2 linked regions of the Homo sapiens genome follow. The protein of the gene in region 2 interacts with the protein of the main gene of each other region in a pairwise test. Each region holds a gene or a part of one and is shown on either strand. Other genes may lie near its edges.

What was found. The genes of interacting proteins can lie anywhere in the genome.
Region 1: the proteins of RTP4 (region 2) and TAS2R10 interact in binary tests that used the Homo sapiens proteins (3 or more experiments, as listed by UniProt).

The regions. Positions count from the first base shown.
Region 1 is NC_000012.12:10,824,718-10,830,892, forward strand, and holds TAS2R10 (taste receptor type 2 member 10), read right to left. Parts: upstream 1,642-6,175; 5' UTR 1,553-1,641; coding exon 629-1,552; 3' UTR 502-628; downstream 1-501. UniProt on the Homo sapiens protein: Gustducin-coupled strychnine receptor implicated in the perception of bitter compounds in the oral cavity and the gastrointestinal tract. Signals through PLCB2 and the calcium-regulated cation channel TRPM5.
Region 2 is NC_000003.12:187,364,501-187,371,384, reverse strand, and holds the start of RTP4 (receptor-transporting protein 4), read right to left. Parts: upstream 3,001-6,884; 5' UTR 2,944-3,000; coding exon 2,789-2,943; intron 598-2,788; coding exon 12-597; 3' UTR 1-11. UniProt on the Homo sapiens protein: Chaperone protein that facilitates the trafficking and functional cell surface expression of some G-protein coupled receptors (GPCRs). Promotes functional expression of the bitter taste receptor TAS2R16.

The DNA of each region.
Region 1 (6,175 bases), on a different chromosome or scaffold from region 2:
GTTTTGATCCCATATCCCTCAACTAGACCCTTGTTTCCCTAACTATATTTCACAGAACTACATCTACTCCTCTGACTACTTGCTACACATCGTACACCAGTAAAAAAGGATGTTAGATTCTAAAAAATGAAAAAAAAACCTTTAAATAATTAAAATAGCATTCTGTAAAGAAGTACCACCATCTATCCTCACTTCCATGTTCTAAATGTCAAGATTGATCTAATTTTCTTTCTTTCTTTTTTTTCCTTTGGGTTTTCTGGGAGAATGGGTGTCCTTGCTTCAGAAAAGTCAGGTAAAGCACAACAAGAAGTTTTATTTTAGAGCTTATTCTCACCGTTATAATCTTTACAGCGAATAGTCTCCAGGCTGATGGTCTTCCTCTAGGAAGTTTGTAGGAAGAAGTTGCAGGGTGGGGAAGCTGACTAAGCCACTGAATTTGCATGTGAGATTAAAATCTCCTCAAAGACTGAGATTCCCTGAAACATAGTCAAAACAATTATGGAAGATTTCAGTGATCTTTAATGACACAGTTAAAAAGACAATGCAAGAATGCAGTGCAATGAAACAGATCTTCAAGGATTTATTCACTGGATTCCTTTCGTGGAACATCCATCTCTTCCCAAGGTGTCTATGTGACTCTGAGATTTTTCCTTTTCTCACAGCACTTCAATTGCTGCAGTACCCTCAAAGAGGCTTGCTTTAGCTTGCTGTTTCCTAGAATTAAGATAAATGAGTGACCCCAGGGATAGATGGCTGTGGTTGTCATTCCAAACATAAGCAGCAGTTTGTTTTCTCGCACAGTAAAACATGATATTTCTATGGCCATGCCTATAAAATACAAGATAAAGAGGATGATGAAAGATATCAAAACTTTCATTGCCTTCACATGAGCTTCTGTGTTGGAGTCTCTCAATCCTGTCACATTCGATTGCATCTGCCTGTTGTGTCTCCAAAGGGAAATGATTAAAAAAATACATGTAATTAGGGATAGTGTAAAGAAGAAAATGACTCCCAGATTTAGCAAAATCTGTTTAATAAAGTATTCACTTTTATACATGTTGAGATCCCAGACTGTGTCATTCTTCGTTTTATAATCATTAAGAATCTTCGCAATGTATGCAAAATTAAGTAACGATGAAATAAGTAAGAATACTATCATGAAGGGAAGAACCATATTTGTTCTGCTCTTCAACCAGAGAAATATGTAGTTGGAAAAATTTGCTATCTTCAGGAAATAGAAGATGCTGAGGCTGGTGGCAAACCACATACTTGATTGATTACCAATTACCCAAAAGTAACTAATATATTCAATTAGGTTACCGGAGGCATATATATTTGGAGAGAATATCTGTATAAATCCATCTGTAATTATTATCCATATCAGAAAAATTCTTGAAATAGCTAAGCCGGTGAGAATAAAGCCAATCGTAGATAACTTATTCTTGGCACAGTCAATGCAGTTTACAAGTCCAATAAATCCATTCCCCAAAACCCCAAACACTGACTCACTAACTACAACAAAAATGAAGATGCCTTCCACTACACGTAGCATATCTGCTAATTCTTAATATTGCTTCTGTTACATCTATCTTAGATTACCTGCTGCAGAATGAGGCATATATTGGCTGCTCGACGGAAGTGTGACTTTCTTCTCTTTCATTATATAAAGACTTGAAATTGCCCCAGTAATGGCTTGAGATGGAATCAGAAATTTCTTAATGAAGACCTTTCCAAATATGTCTACAAAACATAGCTAGTCTGGAGAATGTATGTTCAGACTGAATGCCTATCTATAATTTGTTAAAATGCAAATGAAAGTTTCTGTTTCATGGATTTTACATGTCCTCCTGAGACTATTTTGCATTTAATAAATTGAATTGTGGAGGAGGAGTGCCAAACATATACCTATAGAATGTAATGCAAAACAGAAACAAAAATTTTGACTTTATCTTTTAAAATATCAAATCATTATTTATGTCATTTATAATCAATTTATATATGTACAGAAAATACTATATAGAAATGAAAAACAAATTTAGCCACTGTAGATACTTACTCTAAATGATCGATTTAATTTTTAATTAAAATTTAAGCTCAACTCTAGGTATGACAAGTTTCACAAATATGTCACAAATCTGTTGCTGTTGTTTTATACTTATGGTTATTACACCCTTGAATGCAGAAGATTATGTTGACTACCCTTGACATGAAAGGCTCTTAGGAATAATCTCTTCATTTAACACATTACTGTTTGCTGGCACCCATTCATTTATCCAACAAGTATTTACTGAATGTCTAGATACAACAAGCTCTCTTTTGATCTTTGAGGGAATATAGTGGTAGACAGAATTTCAAAACTTGTGTGATTTATGGAGTGTATATTCTAATGAGGGAGGTGGGAAACAATTAAGTAAATCAACATACTGATCTAAGAATTAAAAGTGAAATTAAAAGTGAAATCTAACATTTATTGAGCTTTTATTATATTCCTAGCGCTATGTTAAGTATCTTTTTCTCATCTTAATTTCACAAGCCTTCAATCCTTTAAAAGAGGGGCTATTTTTGTATTTACATTAAATATGAATAAACTAAGCTTTGGAGAAAAGAAGACCTTCTCTCACTTATCCTGGCATGACTACCATAAATAAAATTGCACAATGATTTCAAAATGAAGTTAAATTAAGCTTAGGAATAGACTACAAATGATAGCAAAACAAAACAAACCAACCAAAAGCAAGTAGAAAACTTAAATTCTCATGGGCTGCACATACTGAAATTGACAGATAAGAATATGTATAGATAAATTAGCTAATGTATACACTGTTTACAAAAAACAAGATGCAATTTCAGAGAAGAGCAGCAAGAGACTGTTAGAAAGAAATTGGAACATTTGGGGAAAAAACTTCTAGAAATGGAGAATATAATTATATAAAATGTAAATGAACTAAATACTCCAAGTAAAAAATTAATAGTAACAAAGAAGAATTTAAAACTCTGACTGTATACTGCTTACAAGAAACACAATTTAAATATAGAAAAGGAAAACTTTAAAGTAAAATTATGGAAAAATAAGCCATGCAAACATCATCCAAAAGAAATCTGGCATAATTATAACAATATTCTATAAAGCAGACTTTAAGGTAAGAAGCAGCATTAGAGAAGAAATGGGGAGTGTACTTTATAGTGATAAAAATGCTCAAATCTACAGAAAGGTAGGGTAATCCCAAAAATTTATGAACCAAATAATCTACCAAACATTTACAGAAAAGGAAAAATAAGACAAATCTACAATCACAATGAAAGACTGTAAAATACATAACTCAATAACTCATCTTAGAAACACCAAAAATCAATAGATGGAAAATACATGAAAAAACAATTGACAAACTTGTGTTCAACGGTAAAATAATTCATATTCTTTTCAAGTGCACATAGACTATTTTTACCAAGACTGATCATGAATCCAAAAGAATATCTCACAAGTGTTGAATGTTCTCTGAATTCAAAGGAATAAAATGAAGTTCAATAATAAAAAGATAACTAGAGAAAGAAACAATTTACTAAGACAAAAAACCTGTAAATACTCTTGAGTCAAAGAAGAAATAACAAAAATTACAAAAATATTTTTAAGTAAATAATACAGGTTGTGTATCCCTTATCTGAAATGTGTGAGACCAGAGAGCTTTGGATTTCGGATTTTTTTTTCTTTTTTTTTAAGTTTTGGAACATTTGCATCATACTGATTAAGCATCTCGAATTCAAAAATTTGAAATCCAAAATGTTCCAATGAGCATATCCTTTGAGCGTCATGTCAGCGCTCAAAGAGTTTCAGATTTTGGAGCATTTCAAATTTCAGATTTTTGGATTAGGGATACTCAACGTGTAATAAAGAAATGACCTATTAAAATTTACATAATCCAATTAAAGCCATTCTTTGAAGGAAATTTGTAGCCTTGAATGCATCTTTTAGAAAGGCAGGGTAAAAACAGATGAATTTTGTTTTCATCTCAAGAAGCTAGAAAGCTAAGAGTGAAAGAAAATAGAAGTCAAGAAATTATAGTAACAGCAGAAATCACCGATAGAAAAGAATTAGGTACAGTAATATACTAATGTTGGTCAAAAGAAAATACAAATTACTACAGTCCTTAGAGATATCAGAAATATGGCCTGGGTGTGGTAGCTAATGCCTGTCATTTCAGCACTTTGGGAGGCCCAGGTGTGAGAATCACTTGAGTCCAGGAGTTTGAGACCAGCCTGGGAAACATAGCAAGACCTTATCTCTACTAAAAAAAATAAATAAATAAAAATAATTTAGCAGGGCATGGTGGTGTGCACCTGTAGTCCCAGCTACTTGGGAGGCCGAGCAGGAGGATTGCCTGAGCCCAGGAGTTTGAACTTGCAGTGAGCTATAATTGGGCCACTGCACTCCAGCCTGGGTGACAGAGTGAGACCTCATCTCTCTCTCTCTCTTTCTCTGTCTCTCTCTCTCTCTCTCTATACATACATATATATACATATATATATATACATATACATATATATATATATATAATACTATATAATATAGTTACATATCCTTGTATATAATCTTTTATTATAAGACAATACTGTGAACAACTTTATACAAAATTTCATCAAGAATACTTATAAGACTATTACAGGCTAATATAGCCTGAACATAGATGCAAAAATTCCAAACAAAATAGAGTCCAGCGATATATAAAAGAATAATTCATTATAACAAATGGAGTTTTAAAAGCCAATTGTGAGATTAAAATGAAATAATTGAAGATACAGTCAATTAACACAAAAGAAAGCCAGAAAAAGGACAGAGGGACAAAAATAAGTGAGATAAATGAAAAACATTGAGCAAAATGCAAGACTTACAGCCAACCATACTGATAATTACATTAAACATGATTTGACTAAACACTCTGATGAAAAGATAGAGATCATCAGAATGAATAAATGAAAGCACAATTAAATGTTATGCCTAGAAGATAAAACATTAAACATAAAGGCACAGATAGATTGAATGTAAAGGAAAGAAAAAGCTATACTATGGAATTTGTAACCATAGAAAGCAGGACTGGTTCTATTCTCAAAGTGGCTATATTATCAAGACAAGTAGTAGAAAAATAGAGGGAAGTTGTATAATGATAAAATATTCAATTTATCAAAAATACTTAACAATCCTGAAGGTGTATCAGACTAATAATTGTGACTCAAAATAAATAAAGCAAAATTAACAGAACTAAAGCAAGTGATAGGCATAGCAAAGATTTAAAAACCCCTTTGCTGTGATCTGCATGTGTCTCCTCCAAAGTCTATATGTTGAAACTTAATTGCCAGTGTGCCAGTATTAAGAGATGGTTCCTTTAGGAGGTAATGAGGGCAGACCTCTCATGAATGAGATTAATGACCATTTTGATGTGCATTCTAGGTATGTTAACTCTACATGCCTTAGATTGTGCAATAGTAACTGGGCTCTTATGAAAGGGTTTTAACAACTTCCACAAGTTCTAGACTAATTTCTGCAGTTACATCAGCAGCAAAAATATTCACAAAAACAATGGTGCCACTGCATTTCAGCCTGGGCGACAGAGTGAGACTCCATCTCAAAACAAACAAACAACAAACAAAAAACATAAAGTAACTGGCTAAATCCATATTATTACAGAGACAAGATTGTTACCTAGAGGAAATAAGTGGTTTTCATTCTATTTTGCTTACTTCTGTTAAATTTCTAACATCCACCTTCTGTAGATCTGAATGAGTGGATTACAACTTATTCACACCTCTTTTTTATATATAGGTGATTATTTTCTCTTTAAAATATTTTAAAAACTATTTTAGAGGTCAGTCCTGGCCCAGGAAGAATTTATTTATTTTATTTTATTTATTTATTTATTTATTTATTTATTTATTTATTTATTTATTTATTTATTTTTGAGACAGAGTCTCTCTCTGTCGCCCAGGCTGGAATGCAGTGGCGCGATCTCGGCTCACTGCAAGCTACACCTCCTGAGTTCACGCCATTCTCCTGCCTCAGCCTCCCCAGTAGCTGGAACTATGGGCACCCGCCACCACGCCTGGCTAATTTTTTGTATTTTTAGTAGAGACGGGGTTTCACCGTGCTAGCCAGGATGGTCTCGATCTTCTGACCTCGTTATCC
Region 2 (6,884 bases):
GCCTATTTTCATCATTCTGATGTAAAGCATTTGACTACAATAAATACAAGCAGCAAAATAAAGACACAGATGTTCAGTGGATCTGGGTCTCGACTGGGCCCTAATTTCTCATACCCACTCCCCTTAGCCTCTTTTGCCTCAGCTGACTGGTTCTTGGCTTGGTTTGCGAGGTACACAGCACCAATTCCAGGTGAGGAATTCCCAGTCTTTAGGTGGGGGAGTAGGGATTTGGACGGCTTTGTCATGCAGCTTTTTAAGCCCTGTCCACAGATGCCCAAAGTGCATGCCTCACAATTGGCTGTGTCATGGGATCCTTCCAGGGACACTTCCAGGATTACTGGCATTTCTGGAGACTTCCTCGTGCCATTTCCATAGTATTTCTTCAGTATATGCTGCACCAGGTTGCTCAGAATCCTCATGGTGCTATCCGAGGAGAACTCAGGCATCTCATATTGGGACCAGGAGCACTTCTGGCACCTTTGGCCAAAGAGCCTCATACGCACCTGACCCTGGGATGTCCAGTGCTCCCAGTACGTGTGGCACAGAATCTGCACTTGGGCGGAAGCCCAACTTCGCTGGCAGGAGGAACACCGGAACCTGCAGTCAGAAGGAAGACACCCATTATGCCTTCATCTGGTTGTTAACCTGAGGGAAAATGGTCTTGGCCCCTGTCACTAACATCCTTTTCCATTTGAAAAAATGCATGTGATTTAGATTGTCCCAGTCATTGATAAACAGGAACAAGAAGGACTATGTTTCAGATAAGGCTTTTTCCTGTGACCTACTGAGTATCCACCCATATGTTACACCCAAGTCTACCTCTTTGCTAGTAAAACATCTCCAGATGCCTCTGAGGGAAAATCATGTCTGCCATCTTCCAGAGAAACTTATTCCTAATTTTGGTCATAGAAAGCTTTGGTAAAGTATCTATTTTGATGCATACAATATAATTGGTCTTTATAATTTTATCCCATTTCATCTGTGAAGTAAGCACTATTAAACCCAATATCCAGATAAGGAAACTGAATCATGAAAAGGATACGCAACCTGCTTAAGGACACACAGGGTAAATGTTAGAGGCATGCTGCTAATCTCAGGCCATCTGAAATTCAACTCATTTACCTGCTGTAACACGTTGCCTCTGGTGAGTAGTGTAGCTAATCTCTCACACCTGGAGAAACAGACTGCATCCCTCATACCTGGGTTGAAGATCCAGTTTACATCAGGAAGACCTTGGGCAAAGCCCTTCCCTTCTATAACCCTCATTGTTTGAATCCATAAAAAAAAAATTCAAGGGTTATATTGGCAGCATCAAAAGAGACGATGTATGTGAAAACACTTTGTAAACTACAAAATGCTTTTCAAAAGCTGATTGATATTTTCCAAAAGTACACTGGTAGGTTGCTTTTCCGATCTCGAAATGACAATCAAATCAAATCATCCCAACAGGAGAAACACCTTCTTTCTGTTTGGAGGAGTGCCAAAACGTTGTAAGACATCATGAGTCCCTCAAAAAGCTCTGGCTGGTGTGGACAGAAATATTTACACATTTCCCTGGATTAGAAAGCAGAGCAACATGACTGCTATACGGGCTCTGACAAGTGACTTGAGAACTGTTCTGGAGACGTTTAGGAGGCTTTATTTAAACAACAGATTCTGCAGCTAAAAATAAGCATATACTGTATTTGATACAATATATAATAATACATATATTATTTATAAATTTATTATTCTGAAATACATAGTACATATGTATATATAATTATATATCATTTATGTATACATATACATATATATTTTATCTTATCCCATTATCTTATGGGAATGTATACGAAGGAATACTTACTCTGCCTAGGAGAACCAGAGAATGCTTTTAGGAGGAGGAGGCACTAGAGTGGGCCTTGAAGGATGAGCAGGGAGGGGTGAGGGGAGGGTCTGCTGAACAAGCAGAACTCCATGAACAAGAGTGTGGAAGTCTGAAGATGCATGGCATAGCTAATAGTCCATAAGGAATGGAGTAGGCCATACCTGAGGCAGGATGGGGCAGGCAGGCAAGCTGAGTAATAGGTCAGATGAAAACTATACCGAAGGTCCTGTGTGTCATTTAAAAATAAATTTGATTATCCAGGTCAGCAATTCTCACCCTCCTAACATGGTCAAGGAAACTGGTTCCTGCAACCTGGAGGCTTGCTGGGGGTTAAAGAGGGAAGTGGTGAGTAAGGGAGGAGTATTACTTGGTGACTCCATGAACTGGGTTTTAGATTTAGTTTTTGCAACATCATTCTATACTATTATCCCCAGGCCTTCAGTAAAGCAATGTTCAGAGTAACTGCTTGATCTTAGCCAATTCTTAAGATATTTAAAAAAAAAAAAAAGGCTCCGTCCCAGGCTTGTACTGAACAGTGCCAAGGCTTGGAGAGCTGGTGCAGCTGGGGGAAGCTGGTCAGGACTGCTGGGGAGACTGCAAAAGACTCTAGAGGTAGTCTGGAACAAATGACGTGGTGAGAAACTAGAAGGGAAAATTTATGGAATAGGGAGCCTTCTCCAGGGTTTTCCAGAAATATTTACGGAGGGAAACCTAGTAAAAGAAGAAACTTCCAGCAGTTAAACAAAATGGAGGTTTGGAGTCGTCTTATCATGTCGACCCTAAAGAGTACTATGACCACAATAGGATGGAGGCCCTGGTGACATTTACTCCTTCAACAAGCTCTCAGAGGAATAAATCATGCTAAGCTGAGCCTGAGCCTCTCTTCTCAGAAGAGCTATTGCCTGGGAAACCCACACTCACCAGCCAAATGCTCTCTGTTGGTATTGCTTCCACCCTTGAGCCAGGCAGTCTAGCTGAAGGTTGCCATCCAACTTCAGCGTCCATGTGGCCCGGGGTTTTGCCTCTTGGATTAGTTCTTGAAATGTCTGCTCCCAAGTCCAGAAATCTACAACCATTTTTTCCCTCTGAAGCTGAGAGAGTAGCTTTCAGGTTTGCTCGTTTCTCAGGAAGAGACAAACAGTTTCAGTTTCGGTGTTCGGTTCAGTTTCTGTTTCTGTGTATGGACATGAGCTGTTTTTTTCAACCTTCATTTTAGACTGTCTGAGTACACAGAACAAGTCTTTGTTCTGAAAACAGACAGCAGCAAAACTGTGTTAGTTAATAGGCCTTGCTGAGAGAGAGATAAAGAGCTCTGTTCTAGATTCTGGGGTCACATATAAATTCGCTTTTATTTTCTCTCTCTCATTTTTTATAATAGGCAAAGTGAGAGGTGACAGCATGCTGGTAGCCCTCGCAGCCCTCGCTCGCTCTCGGAGCCTCCTCGGCCTCGGTGCCCACTCTGGCCGCGCTGGAGGAGCCCTTCAGCCAGCCACTGCACTGTGGGAGCCCCTTCCTGGGTAGGCCAAAGCCAGAACCGGCTCCCTCAGCCTGCTGGGAGATGTGGAGGGAGAGGCACGGGCAGGAACCGGGGCTGCATGCAGGGCTTGCAGGCCAGCTAGAGTTCTGGGTGGGCGTGGGCTTGGCGGGCCCTGCACTCGGAGCGGCCGGCAGGCCCCCAGCCCTGGGCAGTGAAGTGCTTAGCACCTGGGCCAGCAGCTGCGGAGGGTGCGCCAGGTCCCCCAGCAGTGCCGGCCCACCGGCACTGAGCTCGATTTCTCGCTGGGCCTTAGCTGCCTCTCTGTGGGGCAGGGCTCGGGACCTGCAGCCCGCCATGCCTGAGTCTCCCCACCCTGGGCTCCTGCATGGCCCAAGCCTCCCCGACGAGTGCCACCCCCTGCTCCATGGTGCCTGGTCCCATCGACCGCCCAAGGGCAGAGAAGTGCGGGCACACACGCAGGACTGGCAGGCAGCTCCACCTGCTGCCCCCGGGGCGGGATCCACTGGGTGAAGCCAGCTGGGCTCCTGAGTCTAGTGGGGACTTGGAGAACCTTTATGTCTAGCTAAGGGATTGTGAATACACCAATGGGCACTCTGTATCTAGCTCAAGGTTTGTAAATGCACCAATCAGCACCCTGTGTCTAGCTCAGGGTTTGTGGATGCACCAATCAGCACCCTGTCAAAACGGACCAATCAGCTCTCTGTAAAACAGACCAATTGGCTCTCTGTAAAATGGACCAATCTGCAGGATGTGGGTGGGGCCAGATAAGAGAATAAAAGCAGGCTGCCCCAGCCAGCACTGACAACCGGCTCGGGTCCCCTTCCACGTGGTGGAAGATTTGTTCTTTTGGTTTTTGCAATGAATCTTGCTGCTGCGCAGTGTTTGGGTCTGCTCTGCCTTTATCAGCTGTTAACACTCACCCGGAAGGTCTGCAGCTTCACTCTTGAGCCAGCAAGACAATAAACCCACCAGAAGGAAGAAACTCAGAACACATCCGAACATCAGAAGGAACAAACTCTGGGCACTGTGCCTTTATGAGCTGTAACACTCACCATGAGGGTCGGTGGCTTCATTTTTGAAGTCAGTGAGACCAAGAACCCACCAATTCCGGACACAAAAGCACTGTTTTTGGCACTGGGAAAAGAGTATCCTGTAGCTAAGAAACAATTCCTGCCCCCACAGATGCTCACACCCAGGTGGAGACAGGGAGGTTAGGAGCAGCGTAGGGGAGCACGTGTTTAATGCTCATCTCCTACACCCCATGTATCCTCACCAGTCCCGCGAAGGATTATTCTTGGAGTTTTGCAGGTTAACTGCACAGAAAGCTGGGGTACTTTGTCCAAATCCCCTCAGTTAACGAGCAGTGGAAGTGAGACTTGAACCCGGGTCTGTGTGACTCCAAAACCTGCCATGTGTCCGCCCACCTCACTCCCTGAAGAGAAGCTGAGAATGGCATTTCAGGTTCCAGGCTGGCACACTGGAGCCAGTGTCAGAGGAACCGTAGGGAGATTTCCTGGGTCCTGAGGCAGGAGGTCAGCTGCATGAAGGGATTATCAAACTCTGCCCTCCACTCTGTAAATTATGTGGAAGGGCAAATACGCACAGGTGTGGGGGCCGTCTTTCAGTGGTAGGATACAGAGAATTCCCATTTTGGGGTAAGGGATTGAGATGAGATGACCTTTAAAGACACTTGTAAGTCTAAAACGCGGAGATTCCAGAGAGTAAGCTTTGTCCTCCTGGGGCTTAAATTCAAATAGGGGAGATAGGACAAGCAGGATGCTTACTTAGGTCTTTAGAACACCCGCTACAGCTTCTGTGTCTGAGACAGGATCAGCCTCAGTCTTCCTGGGTTTTCTAGGCTTCCATGTGCCCTGTCAGCGACTCAGAGACACCCTCTCTCTTTCCTTCCCTTCCTGGATACCTGTGTCTATACACATGATATAGGAAGCTCTAAGAACTTGTAATTGGATCCACAGGATGTTAGAGTTGGGAAAACCCTTAGAAATCAACTTATCCCTTTTCCCTTTAATTTTTATACACGAGAAAACTGAGGCTGGGCACCGTGGCTCACGCCTGTGATCTCAGCACTTCGGGAGGCCAAGGAGGGTAGATCACTTGAGGTCAGGAGTTTGAGACCACCTGACCAACATGATGAAACCCCATCTCTACTTTAAAAATTACAAAGTCAGCCAGGCATGATGGCGCATGCCTGTAATCCCAGCTACTTGGGAGGCCAGGGCAGGGGAATTGCCTGAACCCAGGAGGCAGAGGTTGCAGTTAGCCGAGGTCATGCCATTGCGCTCCAGCCTGAGTGACAAGAGCATAACTCCGTCTCAAAAAAAAAAAAAAAAAAAAGAGAAAAGAAAACTGAGACCCAGAGGAATAAGGTCTCTTGCCTAAGGTCACACAGCAAATTAGTGCCAATACAGGGCCTGGCTTCAAGTTCTGCTCTCTTGCTCCACCCATGCATAAATCATTTCTCTACCCTTTCTCTTCACTTTCCGCTGGGTTTAGGATCCCAAGTCCACTCTACTTATTCTGTATCTTCAGAGTGTACCTTCAGAGAGTCCCCTTACCCCTGACACCTCAAATGCTCTGTTTTTCCCAAAAGGTAGCTTGATCCGGCGCATTGCATGCCTTCATGATTTCCTTCTGCCTCTTCTTCATGTGTGCCCTTTGATATACCCAATTGTTCAGGTCAGCCTGGTCCTTTGCATGGGGGTTCAGCAGGAAGATTAAGGGTAACATGTGTTGAAGAAACACACTCAAAGTGCTTTTTCTATTCTGTCACTCAGTAGCAATCAACACAAAAGACTTCTAACCTAATATGTGGGGAGTTTCCTCACCAAGCAAGCAGTCACTTAATTCTGCAGAGGACACCAACTAGATGACCTCTTATTCAATTCAGTTCTAATACTATCTACCCCAACCCAGCATGAGATCCCAAGGGTGGAGGGCCCAGTCCACAAGACTGTTCCCCTACAACTTCAGGCTGGGGCTTGGGGCCAGTTGAAAGCCCCATGTTATTTTACCTGTGCTTCTGACCAACTGGTTATACATTAGGATTCCCTCCTTAAGTTCGATTAATTTGCTGGAGTGGCTCATGGAACTCAGAAGAACACTTACTTATGTGTGCCAGTTTATTATAAAGGTATTAAAGGCGATACAGATGAAGAGATGCATACGGAAAGGTATGGGAAGGGGCATGGAAGCCCACCCTGGGCACACTATCCTCCAGGAGCCTCCTTGTGTTGGGCTATCCTGAAGCTGTCTGAACCCTGTCCATTTGGAGCTTTTATGGAGACTTCATTACGCAGGCATGATTGATTAAACTATGACCACTGGTGATGAACTTAGTCTTCAGCCTTAGAGATTAGGGGATGAGACTGAAAGTCCCAACACTCTAATTCTGCCTGGAACTTTCTGGCGACCAGCTCTCATCCTGAAGCGACCTAGGAGCTGCCGGCCACCTGTCATTTCATTAGCATACAAAAAGATCTCTTCAGAGATTCTAAGGAT